2 separate regions of the Homo sapiens genome follow, and region 1 is linked to region 2. Evidence: fine-mapped expression QTL. A gene starts in region 2. The other region holds a variant in brackets. All regions are shown on one strand. Distances are from middle to middle.

Region 1 (10,959 bases), 89 kb after region 2:
TAATAAAGGGGTCAATTGTCCAAGAAGACATAACTATCCTTAATGTGTACGCACGTAATAATAGAGTGGCAAAATACTTGAAGCAAAAACTGACAGAACTGCAAGAGAAATAGATGAATTCCGTTAATATAGTTGGACTCAACACCTCTCTATCAGAAATGGACAGATCCAGATCATGAAGAGATTTATCATTTGTCTGATGTATCTGGGGTGGGGAAAAGAAAGAAAGAAATGGACAAATCCAGCAGGTAGAAAATCTGTAAGGACATAGTTGAATTAAACAGCACCATCAATCAACAGGATATAATTGACATCTATCAACTACTTTATCCAACAACAGTAAATACACACAAGATCACATGGAATATTCACCAAGATAGACTACATTCTAGCCCATAAAAAAAAGTTAGCAAATTTAAAATAATAGAAATAGCAATCAATAACAGAAAGATAGCTGGAAAATACCAAAGCACTTGGAGATTAAACAATACACTTCTAAATGACACGTGGGTCAAAGAAGAACTATCAGGAGAAATTTTAAAATCTTCTGAACTAAATTAAAATGAAAATACAACTTACCAAAATGTGTGGTATGCACCAAAAGCTGTGCCTACAGGGAAATTTCTAGTATTAAATGCATGTATTAGGAAATAAGAAGGATCTAAAATTATCTAAGCTTCCACCTTAGAAAACTATAAAAAAGAGCAAATTAAATCCAAAGCAGAAGAAAATAAATAATAAAAATTTTAACAGAAATCAAAGAAATTGAAAACAATTCAAATTGAAATACATGAACTGAAAACAAGGAAATTGACAGAGAAAATCAACAAAATCAAAAGCTGGTTCTTTGAAAAGATCAATAAAATCAATAGGCATCTGGCCAGCTAACTGAGAAAAAAAGAGAGAAGACACAAATCAGAAATAAAAGAGATGACATCACCACAGATCTTAGGGACATTAGAAGAATGAGAAACAAATACTATGCCCACAAATTTGATAACCTAGATGAAATGGACCAATTTCTTAAAAGACACAACTACTGAAACTACATATGTAAAAATAGACAATCAAAATAGGCCTATATCTATTAAAGAATTCGAATAAAAAATTAATAACCTTCAAAAACAGAAAGCAGTAGGCCCAAATGGGTTTATTGTTTAACTGTACATCCAACATTTAAGGAAAAAATAATACTAATTCTCTACAATCTCTTCCAGAAGATATAAGCAGAGGAAATCATTTCTAACTCATTCTATGAAGCCAGCATTTATCCTAATACCAAAACCAGACAAATAAATTACAAGAAAACTACAGACCAATGTCTTTTGTGAACATAGGTGCAAAAATCTTCAACAAAATATCAGCAAATAAAATCCAACAATGTATGAAATGAATCATATACTACCACAAAGTGGGCTTTATCGCAGGTATGCAAGACTGGCTCAACATACAAAAATCAATTAATGTAATCCATCACATCCACAGACTAATGAAGAAAAATCACGATTATATCCATAGATGCAGGAAAAACACTTCACAAAACCCAATACTCATTCACGATAAAAACTCTCAGCCAACTAGGAATAGAAGAGAGTTTCCTTAACTTGATAGAGAACAAGATTTCAACTTGATAAAGATCTACAAGAAAACCTACAGCTAACATCATACTTAATGGTGAGAAACTAGAAGCTTTCCTGCTAAGATCAGGAACAAGGCAAGGATATCCCTGATATCCCCTTTCACCACTCCTTTTCAACATCATACTGGCAGTCCTAGCTAATGCAATAAGACAAGAAAAGGAAATAAAAGGTATAGAGATTGGGAAGGAAGAAATAGAACCATCTTTGTTTGCGGAGGGCATGATTGTCTGTCTTTGTAGAAAGTCTGAAGGATTTGACAAGTCTATGGCCTTACCACCCTGAATGCACCCAGTCTTTTCTGAAAGAGTTCACACACACACAAACACACATACACACACACACACGATCCTCCTGGAACTACTAAGCAATTATAGCAAGGTTGCAAGATAAAAGATTAATATACATAAGCCAATCTCTTTCCTGTATACCAGCAATGAACAGTGGAATTTGAAATTAAAAACACATTACTATTTACATCAGCAATAAAAAAAGAAATACTTTGGTATAAATCTAACAAAATATGCACAAGATCCAGGAAAACTACAAAAGCCTAATGAAAGAAATCAAAGAAGTAAATAAATGGAGAGATAACTTAGTCTATGTTCATGGATAGGAAGACTCAATATTATCAAGATGTCAGTTCATCCCAGTTTGAACTATAGAGTCAGCATAATCCCAATCAAAATCCTAACAAGTTATTTTGTGGATATTGACAAACCAATTCTAAAGTTTACATATCTAAAGGCATAAGATCCAGAACGGCCAACACAATATTGAAGGAGAACAAAGTCAGAGCACTGTTACTACCCAACTTTAAGACTTACTATAGGTTGGCACAGTGGCTCATGCCTGTAATCCCAGCACCTTGGGAAGCCGAGGTTGGTGGATCACCTGAAGTCAGGAGTTCAAGACGAGCCTGGCCAACATAGTGAAACCTTGTCTCTACTAAAAATACACGCCTGGGACTACAGGCGTGGTGGTATGTGCCTGCAGTCCCAGCAACTTGGGAGGCTGAGGCACAAGAATTGCTTGAACCCGGAAGGTGGAGGTTGCAGTGAGCTAAGATCACACCACTGCACTCCAGCCTAGGTGACAGAGTGAGACTCCATCTCAAAAAAAAAAAAAAAAAAAAGACATATTATAAAGCTACAGTAATTAAGGCAGTGTGGTATTGGTAAGAGGAGAAACAAATAGATAAATGGGACAGAATTGAGAGCTTAGAAATAGGCCCACATAGATATAGCCAACTGATTTTTTACAGAGGAGCAAAGGCAATACAATGGAAAAAAGATAGTCTCTTCAACAAATGGTGCTGAAACACCTGGACATTTACATGCCAAAACATGAATCTAGACACACGCCTTACACTTTTTGCAAAAATTAAAACAAAGTGGATCATAGACCTGAATGTAAAACTGTGAAACTCCTAGAAGACAACATAAGAGAAAATCTAGATGACCTTGGGTATGGCAATGACCTTTTAGATACAATCCATGAAATAAATAATTGATAAGCTGGACTTCATTAAAATTAAAAACTTCAGCCTGGTGCAGTGGTTCATGCTTATAATCCCAACAGTTTGGGAGACTGAGGTGGGAGGATCACTTGAGCCCAGGAGTCTGAGACCAGCCTGGGCAACATGGCAAAACCCCGTCTCTACAAAAAATACAAAAATTAGCCGGGTGTGGTGGTATGCACTTGTAGTCCCAGCTACTCAGGAGGCTGGGATGGGAGTATCACCTGAAGTCATGGCTGCAGTGAGCTGTGATTGTGCCACTGCACTCCAGTCTGGATGAAATCCTGTATCAAAAAAAAAAAAAAAAAGATTTAAAAACTTCTAGCCGGGCGCGGTGGCTCACGCCTTTAATCCCAGCACTTTGGGAGGCCAAGGCAGGTGGATCATGAGGTCAGGAGTTTGAAACCAGCCTGACCAATATGATGAAACCCCGTCTCTACTAAAAATACAAAAATTAGCTGGGTGTGGTGGTGCGCGCCTATAATCCCAGCTACTCAGGAGGCTGAAGTAAGAGAATTGCTTGGAGCCGGGAGACAGAGATTGCAGTGAGCTGAGATTGCGCCATTGCACTCCAGCCTGGGCAACAGAGCGAGAGCGAGACTCCGTCTCAAAACAACAACAACAACAACAACAACAACAACAACAACAACAAAAAACCTTCTGCTTTGTGAAAGGCACTGTCAAGAGAAGGAGAAGAGAAGTCATAGACTGGGAGAAAATATTTCTGCCAAATATATGCCTGACATAAGACTGTAATGCAAAACAAAGAACTCTTTAAAAAACAATAAGTAAAAGAACAGTTTGATTTAAACATGGGCAAAAGACCTGAAGACACCTCACCAAAGGAGAATACAGATGGCAAGGGGTTTATTTCTGGGCTTTTCAGTGTGTTTCATTGGTCTATATCTCTGTCTCCATGCCAGTACCACACAGAGGATTTTTAGGGCAGTGAAACTATTCTGTATGATTCTATTAATGACGGATCTATGTCATTATACATTTGTCAAAACCCATAGAATGAACAATACTAATGTAAATTTTGGACTTTGGGCAATAATGACATGTTAATGAAGGTTCATTGGTTTTAACAAGCACCATTCTGGTGCAGATTGTTAATAGATGGGGAGGCTATGCATGGATAGGGGCTAAAGGTGTGTGGGAACTCTGCACTTTCTGTATACTTTTGCTGTGAACCTAAAACTACTCTAAAAACTATGTGTGTGTGTGTGTGTGTGTGTGTATTTTGAGACAGAGTCTTGCTTGGTCTGTTGCCCAGGCTGGAGTGCAGTGGGGCATCTCGGCTTGCTGCAACCTCCGCTTCCCGGGTTCAAGCAATTCTCCTGCCTCAGCCTCCCGAGTAGCTGTGATTACAGGCACCTGCCACCGCGCCCAGCTAATTTTTGTATTTTTAGCAGAGACGGGATTTCATCACAGTGGCCAGGCTGGTCTTGAACTCCTGACCTCAGGTGATCTGCCCACCTCAGCCTCCCAAAATGCTGGGATTACAGGTGTGAGCCACCACACCTGACCAAAAAAAGAAATCTATCTTTTAAAAGTCTAATGAAAAGCTGATATGCAGCCAAGAATATGAAAGATGCCAGTGAGTTGCCTTTTAATCCATAAAAATTAATTAGGTATTATCATCATCAACATTTTTCTAAACAGAAGTTAAATGTTGCATCTGATGTTAAATGTTGTTGAAGTAGCAGAGTGAGGCTTTAACTCTTAGACTATGTGATTCCAAATTCTCTGCTAGCTCAATAGCATTGGAATAGCAATGAGATTTCATGAAAAATGATGAAGGCAAGTAAAGGTATCCTTTTGCTATGGAGTAGAAAGTTCTACCACAGGGATATCCAGGAAGTGAGAAAAGCCAGAAGAGATAAATGTGGCAGCCTCGGCTGGTCAGAGAATAATTCCCAAAGGAGATGATGCATGTGCTAAGAGTTTCTCAGCAAGTAGAAATGAACCTGTGGAACTCAAACAACTCAGCAAGAAAAAAACAAATAATCCCATCAAAAAGTGGGCGGTGGATAAGAATAGACAGTTCTCGGCCGGGCACAGTGGCTCACGCCTGTAATCCAGCACTTTAGGAGGCTGAGGTGGGCAGATCACGAGGTCAGGAGATCAAGACCATCCTGGCTAACACGGTGAAACCCCGTCTCTACTAAAAATACAAAAAATTAGCGGGGCATGGTGGCGGGCACCTGTAGTCCCAGCTACTCAGGAGGCTGAGGCAGGAGAATGGCGTGAACCCAGAAGGCGGAGCTTGCAGTGAGCCGAGATCGCACCACTGCACTCCAGCCTTGGGCAACAGAGCGAGACTCCACCTCAAAAAAAAAGAAGAAGAATAGACAGTTCTCAAAAGAAGATATACAGTCAACAAACACATGAAAAAAATGCTCAACATCACTAATCATCAGGGAAATGCAAATTAAAACTACAATAACATACCACCTTACTCCTGCAAGAATGGCCATAATTAAAAAGTCACAAAACAATAGATATTGATGGTGTGGAAGTAGTGAAAAGAGAACACTTTCACATTGCTGGTGGGGATGTAAATTAGTACAACCATACTGTAGAAAACAGTGTGGAGATTCCTTAAAGAACTAAAAGTAGATCTACCATTCAATCCAGCAATCCCACGACTGGGTATCTACCCAGAGGAAAAGAAGTCATTACATGAAAAAGACACTTGCACACGCATGTTTATAGCAGCACAATTCACAATTGCAAAGATATGGAACCAATCTAAATGCCCATTGACCAACAAGTGGATCAAGAAAATATGGTATATATACATCATGGAATACATCTCAGCCATAAAAAGGAACAAAATAATGTCTTTTGCAGCAACTTGGATGGAGCTGGAGGCCACTATTCTAAATGAAGTAACTTAGGAATGGAAAACCAAATACCATATGTTCTCACTCATAAGTGAAAGCTAAATTATGAGGACGCAAATGCCTAAGAACGTCATAATGGACTGTGGAAACTTGGGAGGGGGACAGTTGGGAGCAGAGTGAAGGATAAAAGACCATATACTGGGTACAGTATACACTGCTTTATGGATGCACTAAATCTCAGAAATCACCACGAAAGAACTTATCCATGTAACCAAAGCCCAACTATACCCCAAAAACTATTGAAATAAATATAAAAACAAATCCATTGAAGAGGCAAGCTGGATAGCTCCCATTTACCCTTTTAGACCTGCTCTACACTCTTTTACATCTCTCTCTGCAACCAGATTCTGGGGGCCTCTGGCTCCCAGCTGGGTGCAGCATATGGAGTGGTTGTTTTATTCTGGGCCGCCCAGTGCCAACACCAACGCATACAGCAGCCTCTGCAGGGGGCCCTCTTTCAACCCTTCTCTCACCTGTTTCTCATTAAAGTCCTTCTCTGTTGCCCCATCAGGGCTAGTAATACTAAGTGTCTCACCATTATTGCTAGCCGCAGGGTGATTCCTCTCCTTGTTAGTTTCTCTAAACACAGCCCACACTTT[T/C]GGAAAGAGGCCCTATGGTTCCATCTATCAAGAGGACCATCTGTCTCCTGCTGCAAACTTGACCAATACAGAACAACATTAAAATCAGAAGAACAATATTAAAATCAGCTGGGCATTGAGGAGTGAATGGGCATGGAGAATTAGGGTAAATTCTGGAACAGGGGTCCCCAACCCCCTTCGCAGTACTGGTCCATGGCCTGTTAGGAGCCAGGCCATAGAGCAGAAGGTGAGCAGTGGGTGAGTAAGCAAAGCTTCGCCTGTATTTACAGCCACGCCCCATCACCGGCATTACCACCTGAGCACCTCCTCCTGTCTGATCAGCAGCATTAGATTCTCATAGGAGTGCAAACCCCATTGTGAACTGCGCATGCGAGGGATCTAGGTTGCAGGTTCCTTACCATAACCTAATGCTTGATGATCTGTCACTGTCTCCCATCACCCTTTGATAGGACCATCTCTAGTTGCAGGAAAACAAGCTCAGGGCTCCTACTGACTCTGCATTCTGGTGAGTTGTATAATCATTTCTTTACATATTACAATGTAATAATAATAGAAATAAAGTGCACAATAAACGTAATGCGCTTGAATCATCCCGAAATCACCTCCCCACCCCGCCCCTAGTCTGTGGAAAAATTGTCTTCCACAAAACTGGTCTCCGGTGCCAAAAAGGTTGGGGGCCACTGTTTTAGAAGACTCATATGGCAGAATTATAGATTACAAGGTTCAATAAATGCCAGGATTGTGGCTGGAAAGGAGGGTAGAAGTCAATTCCAGAAGGTGCCTTTCCTGTTGTGCAGTTGACTCAGAACTGGGATGCTAGAAAGTTGCCCTGTGATTTGTGGAGGGAATCCACACTAACCACAGGAAATCACCCATGACATTTGCAAGACAGAAGGAAGGAGAAACTGAACTAAGGGGTGGTAGCAGAACTGGACAGGAGGTAGTGCAGAGAAGAATTATTTACATGTTGAACCAATGGAGTTAAGAACTAAATGCTGGACCTCTTTTTTTTTTTTTTTTGGTGGAGATGGGATCTCACTATGTTGCCCCAGCTAGAGTGCAGTGGTGCAAACAAGGCTCACTGCAGCCTCAACCTCTTGGGCTCAAGTAATCCTCCTGCCTCAGCCTCCTGAGTAGCTGGGACTACAGGCACATGCCACCATGCCCAGCTAATTTTTAAAATGTTTATACAGATGAGGTCTCACTATGTTGCCGAGGCTAGTCTCAAACTCCTGAGCTCAAGTGATCCTCCCACCTTGGCCTCCCTAACTGCTGGGAACCACTGCACCCAGCCTACTGGGCATTTTTTAATGCCCAGCCTTAGCAAGGCATCTGCCTCACAGCAGACACTCAATGACTAGCACCTGGTGAATTTAGTCCAGTCGCGCCTTGATCTCCACCCAGCAGGTTATCAGTATTTGACTATACTAAACATTTCATTTAAAGAATGCTTTGAGCCCGGGCATGGTGGCTCATGCCTGTAACCCCAGCACTTTGGGAGGCCGAGGCGGGCAGATCACCTGAGGTCAGGGGTTTGAGACCAGGCTGGCCAACATAGTGAAATCCCGTCTCTACCAAAAATACAAAAATTAGCTGGGCATGATGGCGCACACCTGTAATCCCAGCTACATGGGAGGCTGAGGCAGGAGAATCACTTAAACCTGGGAGGCAGAGATTGCAGTGAGCTGAGATTGCGCCACTGCACTCCAGCTTGGGTGACTGAGACTCTGTCTCAAAAAAAAAAAAATGCTCTGCATGCCCGCCTGTAACCAAAAATAAATATTAATTGCTGAGTTACTTTTACTGTGGAAAAACTACTCATCTGCTTGACATTGCTCTTTCACCAAGGGGCATTCTGTTGTTTCACCTCTGCAATTTAAAATTTCTAGTGAAATTAAATTCTGTTACTTGTTGTGGCTGTGTACCATCTTAAACTATCATTAATCACAAAGACAGATAATACCAAGGAATGATTTCAATGCCGCACCTGCAAGTGGCGGAGAACTGCAAGCTGGAATCAGCCTCTGCCGAGGTGCAGGCCCCAAGAGACAGCAGCATCTGTGTAGAAACCAAACACATGCATTTTTTTCCTCTGTGTTTATAGAATTGTCTTCCGTTTACGGTCATTGATGCTGGATTTCCACGTACACAGGGATATGAAGTTTCCCATTTTAACAGATTCCCATTTTTAAGTAGAAGTATAGAAAAACTCTAAAAGTTAAATGATGAATAGTAGGTTTGGCAAGGACTGTTCCGTTTACCTAGTGCTGCACTAAAAAGCCATCCCAAAACAATGGCTTGAAACAATAGCCGAGGTTTATTTTGCTCAGGAATCTGGGGCTGACTGGGCTGCTAGGCAGCTGTTGCCTGGGGGCATCTCTAAGGTTCCAGTCCATGGAGGCTGCAGTCACACGCGAGTGTCCTCACTCACGCGCCCAGTGTCTGGGCTGGTAAGACTCCAGGCACTGGATGCTGGATAGGCTGGGCCTATTGGGTCTCTCTCTCTGAGGCGTCCCCACACAGCAGCTCAGGGCTGCCAGACTCCCAGCATGATGGTTAAAGGCTCCCAGAACAAGGATCCCAGGAGAACTGGCAGGACCTATGTGGCTTTCTATAAGCAGCCTCAGAAGGCACTCGGCTCTCTCCTGCTGTAATCATTAAGGGCTGTGGTTTAAGGTGAGGTTCGTGGCCTCTGTGTCTTGATGGGGAGAGTGTGGAAGAATTGGTGGATATGTTTGAAAGCCACCACCAGGGCAGAAAAAAAAATACTGAGAGGCTGAACATTAGGGGATATGGGGAAATGCCCCTGCAGGTTTTGAAAGTCTTTCTCACTTGGGGTTTGCCTGACCTCCCTGCAACTCATTTCCCAGCTCTCTGCATTCTGGAAAGTCATGCCCTTCTACCTCTGGGCCTTTGACTCTGCCTTCCCCCCTGCCAGGCAAGCCATTCCTCCCTCTGGCAAATTCATTCTTCAAGATCCAGTTTCATGGTGCTGTCTGCTAAGACAGGGCCCCCACCTCTGCCCTCTTCCTGCTGTGACCACACAGACTAGGCATGTTTTGCAGACTCTTTCTCCAGAAGGACCGGGCACACAGGAAACCAATGACCACTCACTTCCCCAAGGTCATCTTTCCTCAGAGGCACTGGCAAGACTCACTGTGTAAGCACAGGTTGATTTCAGCTCACCTGCTGTCATCCGTGCTTGTCCCTGGGGATGCCTTGGCCAAACCTGAAAGAAATGCAGGAACCAGTGATGAATAGTCCTGTGCTAGTGCCTGAGACAGGCCGGGGGCCTCCTGCAGCCACTTGTCCGCACTGCTCATGTACAGATGCGTGGGTGCACCTGCTTGCTCGTATGTCCGCCTGGTTTGGCTGCATGACAGCAAGGTATAAAAGATCCTTTCTGGTTTGAAACAGTGGTTCCCTGAGGTCAAGGTATCTCCCATGTGCCTGCTGGCCCCTTTCTCTCTCCTCCAGTGCTCTCTGCCGCCCCTTAAAAGGGTCCACCACATTTCCCACGAGGATCAAAGCAATTGTGTGGGAGAGAAGAGCTTGCCTCTGAAGGCAGGCCTTGGAGATGGCCTCTTATTGATGGTCCTCACCCCTTCCTCATGGTCCTGTGCTAACCAGGCCACACAGACCGAGTCCTCACTGCACCAGGCACCGCTGCCCCAGCTCCAGGCTGCCACCCTCTGGGCTCCAGCAGCTGGGGGTGCAGAGAGCACCTGGCTCCTCAGGACACAGAGGAAGCACCTCAATGCTCCCCTGGGCAGCTCAGCCATGCAGGTCCTTTCAAGCTATCAGAGCAGGGAAAGATGTCACTGTCCCCAGAGGAGACAGTGGGCAGGGTGCATCTGTCCCAGCCATCAGCAACCTCCACCCAAAGGCACCCCATGCACTCCAGTTAGCTCTGTCTTCACATGCCCTGGCATGAGCTGCAGCACTGCTCTGAGCTCCGGGAGCCAAGGAAGACAGCCAAATCCCCTGGGGCACTAGGTCACATGGCCCTGCAGCTCGGTCCCCGTTGCCCAAGCTCTGACTTCCCACTCCTGTTCCCTGCCCTCCAGGAAAAGCCACATGTTATACTCACCCTCACCTGCACCTCCCTTCACCCCTGGGTCTGGAATTGCTGGTGGGTTCAGGGATGAAGGATTTCCCACTGAGCAGACCTTGGGTGTGGACTTGAAGCTTCAAACCCTCCTTGCTCACTTCTCGGCTTAGTGCTGGGGCAAACAACCTGAAAACCGATCTGAGTCTCCAGGAGTGCTGCCCTCCCCCACTCCACCCCCAACACA
Region 2 (10,959 bases):
TTTTAGTACAGGGCTGAGAAAACTTGATGGTAAATAATAGAGGTTTCCCAGGCCAATAAGCAAAATTGAAGATATATGTAGGCGTTTACATAACAAAGGAGAACCCTCTGGCGAGCCTCTCCCTGCTTGCCCCCAGAGAACCATCCGGAGTAGTTAGCATGTTTCATGTCCAGCTGCTGCTTGCCAAAAACATTCTCAGAACAAGAGGGACTAGCCCAAGAGGGAAAGGGCTAGTAGGTATGGTGAAAAAGGGGCAGGGTGGCTGGGTGCAGTGGCTCCCACCTGTAATCACAGCACTTTGGGAGGCTGAGGTGGGTGGATTGCTTAAGCTCAGGAGTTTGAGAGCAGCCTGGGCAACATGGCAAAACCCTGTCTTTACCAAAAATAAAAAATAAAATGAATAAATAAAATAGCTGGGTGGTGGCATGCATCTGTGGTCCCAGCTACTAAGGAGGTTGATGTGAGAGGATCACTTGGGCCTGGGAGGCAGATGTTGCAGTGAGCTGAGATTGCATCAGTGCACTCCAGCCTGGGTCTCAAAAAAACAAAAAGAGAGGGGAGAGGTTGGCAGGGGAAGGGGCCGGGGAGTGAGCCTGCTGCAGTCCATTTCTTTCTCTGCCCCAGTATCACCCAGACAGGTGCCTGTGTGTCCTTCTCTCCTCCCGTCATCACAAGTTGGATAGCTGGCTGGAAGCAAGGTGACCTACTCAGTCACCAGCTCCTGAACTGAGATTCCATTGCTTGGTTGCTAACAATAGAGTCTCCAATGTGTAGATGGCAACCAGGGTGGGCCCTGGACTGCAGCAAGGTACAGCTGGCCAGGTGGACAGGAGCTGAGAGCAGTGGGGGAGTAGAAACAGAAGAAAATACCCCAGCTTGGTCCCCAGATGCTCCAGCAGTGCCCACATTCCATATGTAAACAGGTGCCAGGCCTGCAGGTTATAGTTTACTGATCCTAGCTTTAGTGGACAATAAAATGTAAAATATTTTGCTTTGGTGGATGTGATGGTTTTAAACTATATCCACAAAGTCTTTCACATTCTTCCCTTTAAAAAGGTAGAACTTAATTCCTCCCCCCTTGAGCATGGGCTAGACTTAGTGACTCACTTCTAATGACTAGAATGTGGTGAAAGTAATGGTGTGTGGCTTCTGAGACTAGGTCTTCACTCTCTGTCAGATCACTCACTCTAGGAAGTCAGCTGCCATGTCATGATGATGCTCAAGCAGCCTTGTGGAAAAGCTTCACAAGGAGAGGAACTGAGGCCTCCTGTCAACAGCCATGAGAGGGGGCTGTCTTAAAAGCAGATCCTCCATCCCCAGTCAAGCCTTCAGATGACGGCAGCCCCTGTGGACATCTTGACCACAACTTCATGAGACCCTAAGCCAGAAACACTCAGCTAAACTGCCCTGGATTTCTGACTCTCAGAAACTGTGAGATAATAAATGTGTGTTATTCTAAACTAACAGTCTAGAATAAACTGTTATGCAGCAATAAATAACCAAGACAGTGGATTTTTATAAAAGACACTTTAAAAATCAGTCTTAACTTCTGGTGCCATCTGGTGTGCATGTTCAGCTGCCTCCTTGAATATGCACTTGGATGTCTCACACATATCTCAAAGAAACATGATGTTCTCCAAACTTGCTCCTTTAGAGTTTGTCCATCCTAGGCCTCCTTTAATTCCACACCTCAGGAATGACTCCATCATAATCTAGAAGATCTAGAAGTTACTTCTTTTTTTTTTTTTTTGAGATGAAGTCTCACTCTGTCACCCAGGCTGGAGTGCAGTGGCACAATCTCAGCTCACTGCAAACTTCACTTCCTGGGTTCAAGCAATTCTTCCTCAGCCTCCTGAGTAGCTGGGATTACAGGCAAAAGCCACCATATCCGGCTAATTTTTGTATTTTTAGTAGAGATAGGGTTTCACCATGTTGACCAGGCTAGTCTCAAACTCCTGACCTCAGGTGATCTGCCCGCCTCGGCATCCCAAAGTGCTGAGATTACAGGTATGAGCCACTGTACTCGGCCAGAAGTCACTTCTTTTGCTTCGTTTCCTCACTCTGCCCACCCACTATGCAGATAGTATGCACACACACACATGCATGCACACACACACACATTCATCCACACCTCCAGTTATCACCTACATCTTAGAGGGCATGCATTTCTCACCACCAACTAGTGTCACGCCTTGCCTCAGTTGGGGAAAGGCCCCCTAATTGGTCTCCTGGCTTCCCACTCAACCCCATCTTCTACTCAATAGTGAGAGTCACTTTCCAATGAGAACTAGATCATGCCACCACCTGGCACAAATCTCCCCAAGGCCTGCCTTTGAAATGAGAATGAGATCCCAGCTTTCCACAGAGGCAGTGAGCCCCTGGCATGGTCTGCCCTCGGCCTGCCCATCCCACCTCACCCCTCCTGCTCCCCTCCTCTGTGCTTATCCACCCCACGCCTCTTCCCCCTCAGAGCTCAGCACACACTGCTCCCTCAGCCTAGAGCATTCCTCCCCAAGTCACATGGCTTCCTCCCCACACCCCTGGAACCCACCTTAAATGTTTTCTCCTGTCTGGCCTTCCCAGCCTCCTCATCTAAAGTAAACCCGCCTGTTATTTTATTTCTCAGTCTACTGTTTATTTGCATCACAATACTTCATGCAAGTTAAAGTATTTGATTCATTATATTTTGTCTGTCCATGGACCAAGCCATAGACGAGCCACAGTTTACTGACAGGAGCAGCCACTTGGGAGTCCCCAGACTTGGGTTCACACACCGGCCCCCATGAGTTCAGCTGAGCAGGTCATACTGTAGCATACGATGGGAACTGGTGGGGCCTCTCCATCACCTTGTCCAAGCCCCTGCAGACAGAGGTGTGCTATGGCCATCAAATGAGGGGGTTTTGAGTAGTCCAAGGGCTACAGATGCCAGTCTCCTGCTTCTGAACCTCAACACAGAAACCGTGTGTACTGAGCCAGTGTACTTAGTTTGTATTTCTGTTTTTCAATGCCTAGGAACCCTAAGTGACATTTATGGACATTCATTAAATGCAGAAAGACAGAAGCCTTGTCCATGACTCCAAGTTCCCAATCTAGAGGGGAGAGCATCAAAGGATATATTTGAGCACAGCACGTTCATTAGACAACAGAGGCTGAACCAACCCCTGTAGAAGCCAAAAGAGAAAGGGTGGGGGAGGGGTTGGGAGAGTCCTGCAGGGACCTTGAGGAAGGGGAAAGGGCTGACAGGGCAGGTTTGGCTGAATAACTTTCCACACCCTCCTCCCCAACCCAGTTATATCAGAACCACTTTACAGAGCCATCCACTTTACAGAGCCATCCACTTTACAGAGCCAGAGGGCATGACTGGAAAAACATGTCCCCTGGCACCAGGGCACTAGTCTCCACTCAGAAGTCATATGCCAGGGGGAGGGGGGGTTTTCCGGTCACCTAGTCCTCTCCCTTCTTGTCAAATTACACTGGGTTGCTAGGTAGGAGGTGTGGAGTGGGTGCAGGGTTAACCTCTCAGAGCATCCTAAGAAGGATCTGGGGGAGTTTGGGAGGAGACTCAACAAAGTCTGGGAGGAGACTCACCTCATCATGCAGGTGCCAAGCCATTCTTGGCACTCCCACTGGGAGGCTGGGAGGGGGACAGGAGCAAGGGATGGAGCAGGAGAGGAGGACGGAGCTGATGCCAGAGGTCACCTTAACCAGCCATGCAGAGAGAGGCTCTCTCCTCCACACCTGCCCCTCAGAACTCCCAGGACCCCTCCACCCCAGGCTGCCCAGCTCCAAGCCCTCCACAGCACCCTTCCAGGCGTGTCATCAATGTAAGGAAAACCTCTATCATCAGCCTTGCTGTATCCAAGAGAACCACTGTAACCCATGGGAATTTCTGGGGGCACCAAGATACAATGGGCAATAATATGACAACCAAGGAGCTTTGGTGACTCACAAATTCCATTCTATCCTCACATAAGGCCACTGCCTGGACACCAGCGTTGGAATGAACGCAGTGAGTTTTCTGATAGAAACGGGGGTAAATAGGAGCTAAATAGTCAAGTAAGGTCAGTATAGTCAGCCAAATTCTGAATTAAATGACATTTATGCCACATGATCAGAGTTTCCCTGGGGACTTCTGATTAATTTTATTGTAATTTGTTTAGCTAGAAAATCCAGCCAGGGGAGGCAGAGGGTCCAGACGGGATTAAGAGGGCAATTCCAAGGCCAAGCTGCCTGGGCGGGAGCCCTGCCTACCCACTCTCTGGCCACATGTCCCTGAGAACACAGCCTAACCTCTCTGAGCCTGATGTTCTCATGTGGACGTGATGGAGCAAACAGCACTGAGCTCACAGGTTGGCGAGAACATCACATAGGATCATTGTGTCAAGAGCTTAAGACAGTACCTGGCACCTAGCAAGATCAAAAAAAAGTTCAATCATTTAAAGAAAAAAGAAAGGAAACTAAGAATCCCTGTCACCAATTAAATGTAAGACAAAAACAAGAGGTATGTGAGCATCCGAGGGTTTTTCCTCCACCTGGCATGATTAGCAGAGGTTCTTTGGGTGAATAATGGGTGAACCCCCCAGTCCCTGAGTTCTGGGAGAGGGTTTGGTCCAGCAGAAGAGCTAGCAACAGGGCAGAGCCGCTAACAAGCCAGACAATTCCTCCTCCTCTGGGTCTCCAGTCACTTTCCGCCCTTGCCTCAGGCCTGTCCCCACCCCAAGCCAGGGGGCGTGAGACGCTGGAAGAAAAGACTTCCCCGCCAGGGCCATGTGTCAATCATACCATTCAGGACACAAACAAAGTTGATTTATCTCCCCTGGACAGCGCTTTGGACCAGAAAGCTTTGGGCTCAGCCTTGGGCGCCGGAGCAGTACGCGCAGGGGAACTGCTAAGCCGGAGCAAGATTCACTCGCGGGGACCCCTGCCTCCCCACGCTCTCTCCTTTCTCGCCTTCCCACCATAGTCCTGGACCTCAGATAACGGTGGATGCCTAAGCCCCAGCCGCTGTCCGGTTAGGGACGTTTACCCCTGTCGCTCCGGCAGATTGCAGGTCACCAAGGCACAGAGGAAGGATTAAACAACTGAGCGCCCGGGGCACCGGCCATCCGCCCGCGTCCTCCCACGGGGAGCGCAAGGCCCCCGCTCCCGCCCCCCGGCCACCTCGGACGCCCAGCGCTTACCTGCCCCGAGGGGCGGGCACTGACAGTCCTGGCCTGCCCGCCGCGGCTGTTTACACCGCAGAGGCTGTTTACACCGCAGAGGCTGTTTACACCCGCTGAGCAGCACGGCCGAGCCGGAAGAAGCCTCCCGTGCCTGTGCGCTAACAGGCTATATTTGTAGGCGGATAATATGATCTGGAGGACATGTGCTAAATCAACTATCTATCTATTCTATGTGACTCAGCCCAGCCTGAGACAAAACAGACTTCGTAGGGGAGGGCTTGGCACCCTGCGCGCTGCAGCCGGCCAGCGCGAGCCCCGGCCCAGGGACTATCTGCAGCCTCCTACCCAGGGCCAGACATTTTCACACTGGAGATCCCGGAGGGTGTGGAATGGAAGGGAGCTGGTTCCGAGTGCTCAGCACGCTAAGCTGGGAACCCAGCCAGACGCAGGCTTTGAAAGCCATATGACCAAGGGAATGTAAAAGTGTTTTCGATGTTGGAAGCAGCAGACATCGAAGGTCTCAATTTCACCGTTACATTTTATCTTTTTAATATCCTAAAATGTATGTGAGTTTAGGTTCTCTTTAGATACTTTACTAATTGGCCAAATATGTTTTGCTGATAGCCGACATCGTGAAAATATGACAAGTTAATAATCAGTAATCAACTCCCTGGCTGCTCCCAGGAGTCCATGTGAACACGTCCTGATCCTTAATGGCAATGGCTCCTCATATCCCTTAGCCTAAACTGAAAAATACCTTTTGTGTGATATATGTGTCATACTTCTAAAATTCATTTCCTTAAAAATCATTATTTTCTTTTCTTTTCTTTTTTTTTTTTTTTTTTTGAGAGGAGTCTCACTGTCGCCCACGCTGGAGTGCAGTGGTGTGATCTCGGCTCACTGCAACCTGCGCCTCCCGGGTTCAAGCGATCCTCCTGCCTCAGCCTCCCCAGTAGCTGGGATTACAGGCGCCTGCCACCACGCGCGGCTAATTTTTGTATTTTTGTAGAGATGGGGTTTCACCATGTTGGCCAGGCTGGTCTAGAATTCCTGACCTCAGGTGACCCGCCCACCTCGGCCTCCCAAAGTGCTGGAATTACAGGCATGAGCCACCGTGCCTGGCCTTTTGAAAATAATGCTTTTTGGTGGGGCACGGTGGCTCACGCCTGTAATCCCAGCACTTTGGGAGGCCGAGGCAGGTGGATCACCTGAGGTCGGGAGTTTGAGACCAGCCTGGCCAACAGGGAGAAACCCCGTCTCTACTAAAAATATAAAATTAGCTGGGCGTAGTGGCAGGCGCCTGCAATCCCAGCTACTGGGGAGGCTGAGGCAGGAGAATTGCTTGAACCCGGGAGGCCGAGGTTGCAGTGAGCCGAGATCGCACCATTGCACTCCAGCCTGAGCAACAAGAGCGAAATTCTGTCTCAAAAAAAAAAGGACTTTTATCTGAGAAATGCAAGTTTTTTTCATTATCAGGCCCAAGGAGACATTAAAATGAAACTGCACTCATGCCCTACTCCCCTCTTTGAGCTATATGTCTTCATCTCTTGAAATTACTTGCTATTGTCACAAGTAGCTGTAAATTAGCCTAATAGCAACACGCCAGACACTATAACCACACCCTATAGCTAAAGGATATATAGCCAATCACTTATCAATGTTATTTCTGTAAACCAATGAAAATTCATAACAAATAACTTTATATCAATCCCTCTCTGTCTCCTTCTTTTACTTTTAAAAATCCACTCATTGAGCAACTGTATGCCAATAAATTGGAAAGTCTAGAAGAAATGAACAAACTTCTAGGTACATACAACCTACAAAGATTGAATCAGGAAGAAATTCAAAACCTGAACAGACCAATAACAAGTAACAAGATCAAGGCTGTAATAAAAAGTCTCCCAGTAAAAAAATGCCCAGAACCTGATGGCTTCACTGCTGAATTCTACCAAACATTTAAAGAAGAGCTAATACCAATCCTACCCAAACTATTCCAGAAAATAGAGGAGGAAGGGATACTTGCAAACTCATTTTATAGGCCAGTATTACCCTGATACCAAAACCAGAGAAAGACACATCAAAAAAAAAGAAAACTACAGGTCAAAATTCATCTCTGATGAATATTGATGCAAAAATCTTCAACAAAAATACTGGCAAGCCGAATTCAGCACTACATTAGAAAGATCATTCACCATGACCAAGTGGAATTTATGCCTGGGATACAAGGATAGTTCAACATACACAAATCAATTGACACAATACATCAGATTAACAGAATAAAGGATAAAAATCATATGATCATTTTAACTGATGCTGAAAAAGCACTGGATAAAATTCAACATTCCTTTATGATAAAAACCCTCAAAAAAACTGAGTTTTGAAGGAACATACCTCAACATAATAAAAGCCATATATGACAGATCCACAGCTAGTATCCTTACTGAATGGGGAAAAACTGAAAGCCCTTCTTCTAATATCTGGAACACAGCAAGGATGCCCACTGTCACCACTGTTATTCAACATAGAACTGGAAGTCCTAGCTAGAGCAATCAGACAAGAGAAAGATATAAAGGGCATCCAAATTGGAAAGGAAGAAGTTAAATTATCTGTTTGCTAATGATATGGTCTTATATTTGGAAAAACCTAAAGATTCCACAAGAAAACTATTAGAACTGATAAACTAAACAAATTCAGTAAAGTTGCAAGAAACAAAATCAACATACAAAAACCAGTAGCAGGCTGGGCACAGTGGCTCACACCTGTAATCCCAGCACTTTGGGAGGCCATGGCAGGTGGATTGCTGGACCCTAGGAGTTTGAGACCAGCTTGAGCAACATGGCAAAACCCCATCTCTACAAAAAAAAAAAAAATACAAAAATTAACCAGGCATGGTGGTATATACCTGTAGTCCCAGCTACTTGGGAGGCTGAGGTAGGAGGATAATCTGAGCCCAGGAGTCAGAAGTTGCAGTGAACCGAGATTGTGCCATTGCACTCCAGCCTGGGAAACAGAGACCCTGTCTTAAAAAAAAAAAAAAAAAAAAAAAAAAGTCAGTAGCATTTCTATAGGCCAACAGTGAACAATATGAAAATGAAATTTAAAAAGTAATCCCATGTACAATAACCACACATAAAATTAAATACCTAGGAATTAACTTAACCAAAGAAGTGAAAGATCTCTATAATAAAAACTATAAAACGCTGATGAAGGAAATTGAAGAAAATACCAAAAAATGGAAAAACATTCCATGTTCATGTGTTGGAAGAATCAATGTTGCTAAAATGTCCACACTACCCTAAGCAATCTACAGATTCAACGCAGTCCCTATCAAAATACTGGACATTTTTCACAGAAATAGAAAAAACAATTCTAAAATTTATATGAAACCACAGAAGACCCAGAATAGCCAAAGCTACCCTAAGCAAAATAACAAAACTGGAGAAATCACATTACCTGACTTCAAATTATACCACAGAGCTATAGTAACCAAAACAGCATGGTACTGGCATAAAAACAGACACATAGACCATGGAACAGAATAGAGAACCCAGAAACAAATCCACACACCTACAGTGAACTCATTTTTGACAAAGGAACCAAGAACATATGCTAGGGAAAAGAACAGTCTCTTCAATAAAAGGTGCTGGGAAAACAGGATATCCATATGCAAAAGAATGAAACTAGACCCCTATCTCTCACCACATACAAAAATCAAATCAAAATGGATTAAAGACTTAAATCTAAGACTTCAAACTATGAAACTACTACAAGAAAACATTGGGCAAAATCCCCAAGACCTTGGTCTGGTCAATGCCATAACCACAGGCCACAACCACACAAATACCCCACAAACACAGGCAACCAAAGCAAAAATGGACAAATAGGATTACATCAAGTTAAAAAGCTTCTGCATAGCAAAGGATAAAATCAACAAAGTGAAGAGACAACCCACAGAAAGGGAGAAAATATTTTCAAACTACCCATTTGATAAGAGATTAATAATGAGAATATATAAGGAGCTCAACGCTATAGGAAAAAAATCTAACAATCTGATCAAAAAAACTGGGCAAAAGATTTGAATAGATTTCTCAAAAGAAGATATACAAATGGCACACAGGCATATGAAAGGATGCTCAACATCACTGATCATCAGAGAAATGCAGATCAAAACTACAATAAGATATCATCTCAACTCAGTTAAAATGGCTTATATCCAAAAGACAGGCAATAACAAATGCTGGTGAGGATGTGGAGAAAGGGAACCCTTGTACACTGTTAGAGGGAATGTAAATTAGTACAACCACTATGGAGAACAGTTTGGAGATTCCTCAAAAAACTAAAAATTGAGCTACCATATGAGCCAGAATTCTACTGCTGGGTATACACACAAAAGAAAGGAAATCAGTATATCAAAGAGATATCTGCATTCCTGTTTGTTGCAGCACTGTTTACAATAACCAAGATTTGGAAGCAACCTAAGTGTCCATCAGCAGATGAATGGATAAAGAAAATGTGGTACATATACACAATGGAATACTATTCAGCCATAAAAAAGAATGAGATCCAGTCATTTGCAATGACATGAATGGAACTGGAGATGATTATGTTAAGTGAAATAAGCCAGGCACTGAAAGACAAACATCCCATGTTCTCACTTCTTTGTGGGATCTAAAAATCAAAGTAGCGCTGGGTGTGGTGGTTCGTGCCTGTAATCCCAGCACTTTGGAAGGCCGAGTCAGGTGGATCACCTGAGGTCCGGAGTTCGAGACCAGCCTGTCCAACATAGTGAAACCCTGTCTCTACTAAAAATACAAAAAATTAGCCAGGCATAGTGGCAGGCACCTGTAATCCCAGCAACTCAGGAGGCTGAGGCAGGAGAATCATCTGAACCCTGGAGGTGGAGGTTGCAGTGAGCTGAGACTGTGTCACAGCCCTCCAGCCTGGGAGACAAGAGTGAGACTCCGTCTCAAAAAAAAAAAAAAAGAAAAGAAAAGAAATTAGCCAGGTGTGGTGGCACGTGCCCGTAGTCCCAGCTACTCGGGAAGCTGAGGCATGAAAATCACTTGAACCCAGCAGCAGGTAGAGGCTGCAGTAAGCCAAGATGGCACCACTGCACTACAGCCTGGGCAACATAGCAAGACTCCATCTCAAAAAAATAAAATAGCCATTAAGAGCTGTATGTGATCAAATACAAAATCCACCACGTAAGAAGCACTTGTTTTTTTATTGTTGTTGTTTGTTTTTTTGTTTTTTTTTTTTTTGTTTTTTTTTTTTGAGATGGAGTTTCACTCTTGTTGCCCAGGCTGGAGTGCAATGGCCTGATCTCAGCTCACCACAACCTCTGCCCCCCGGGTTCAAGCAATTCTCCTGCCTCAGCCTCCTGAGTAGCTCGGATTACAGGCACCCGCCACCACGCCTGGCTAATTTTGTATTTTCAGCAGAGACAGGGTTTCTGAATGTTGGTTAGGCTGGTCTCAAACTCCTGACCTCAGGTGATCCACCTGCCTTGGCCTCCGAAAGCGCTGGGATTACAGGCATGAGCCACCCCACCGGCTTAAGAAGCACTTTTAAATTAGATTGTCCAGGTCATGAAAACCAAGTGAGACCCCAGCTTGCCTCCCAAGTCTAACTCCTGGGAGTCTGTCTGCCCATCTATCTGTCTGCTGGGGCCAAATGGCCTTGACTTGGTTGGTAGGAAATTAGGAAGTGACTGCCTCCTCACCATCAGCAGCTTACTGATCACACTAAAATGGCACTTCATTTAGATTACTGGGCTTGTCTTATCTCGGGGGAGGGG

What was found. PIP is the estimated chance that this variant, and not a neighbour inherited with it, causes the effect.
Region 1: its variant is fine-mapped to the expression of LRRC2 in cerebellar hemisphere (GTEx, PIP 0.98).

What each region holds. Positions count from the first base shown.
Region 1 is chr3:46,650,384-46,661,342 of GRCh38, forward strand. No RefSeq gene overlaps it. Among named protein-coding and RNA genes, the nearest start is that of ALS2CL, 38 kb to the right of the region's middle. RefSeq lists an enhancer at 10,412-10,959. The variant T/C (reference allele first, on the strand shown) is at 6,665.
Region 2 is chr3:46,560,997-46,571,955 of GRCh38, forward strand. LRRC2 (leucine rich repeat containing 2) reads right to left here and starts at 5,306. Exons shown (of 9, transcript NM_024512.5): 1 at 5,181-5,306. RefSeq lists enhancers at 1,921-2,422, 3,094-4,004, 4,005-4,915, 5,183-5,477.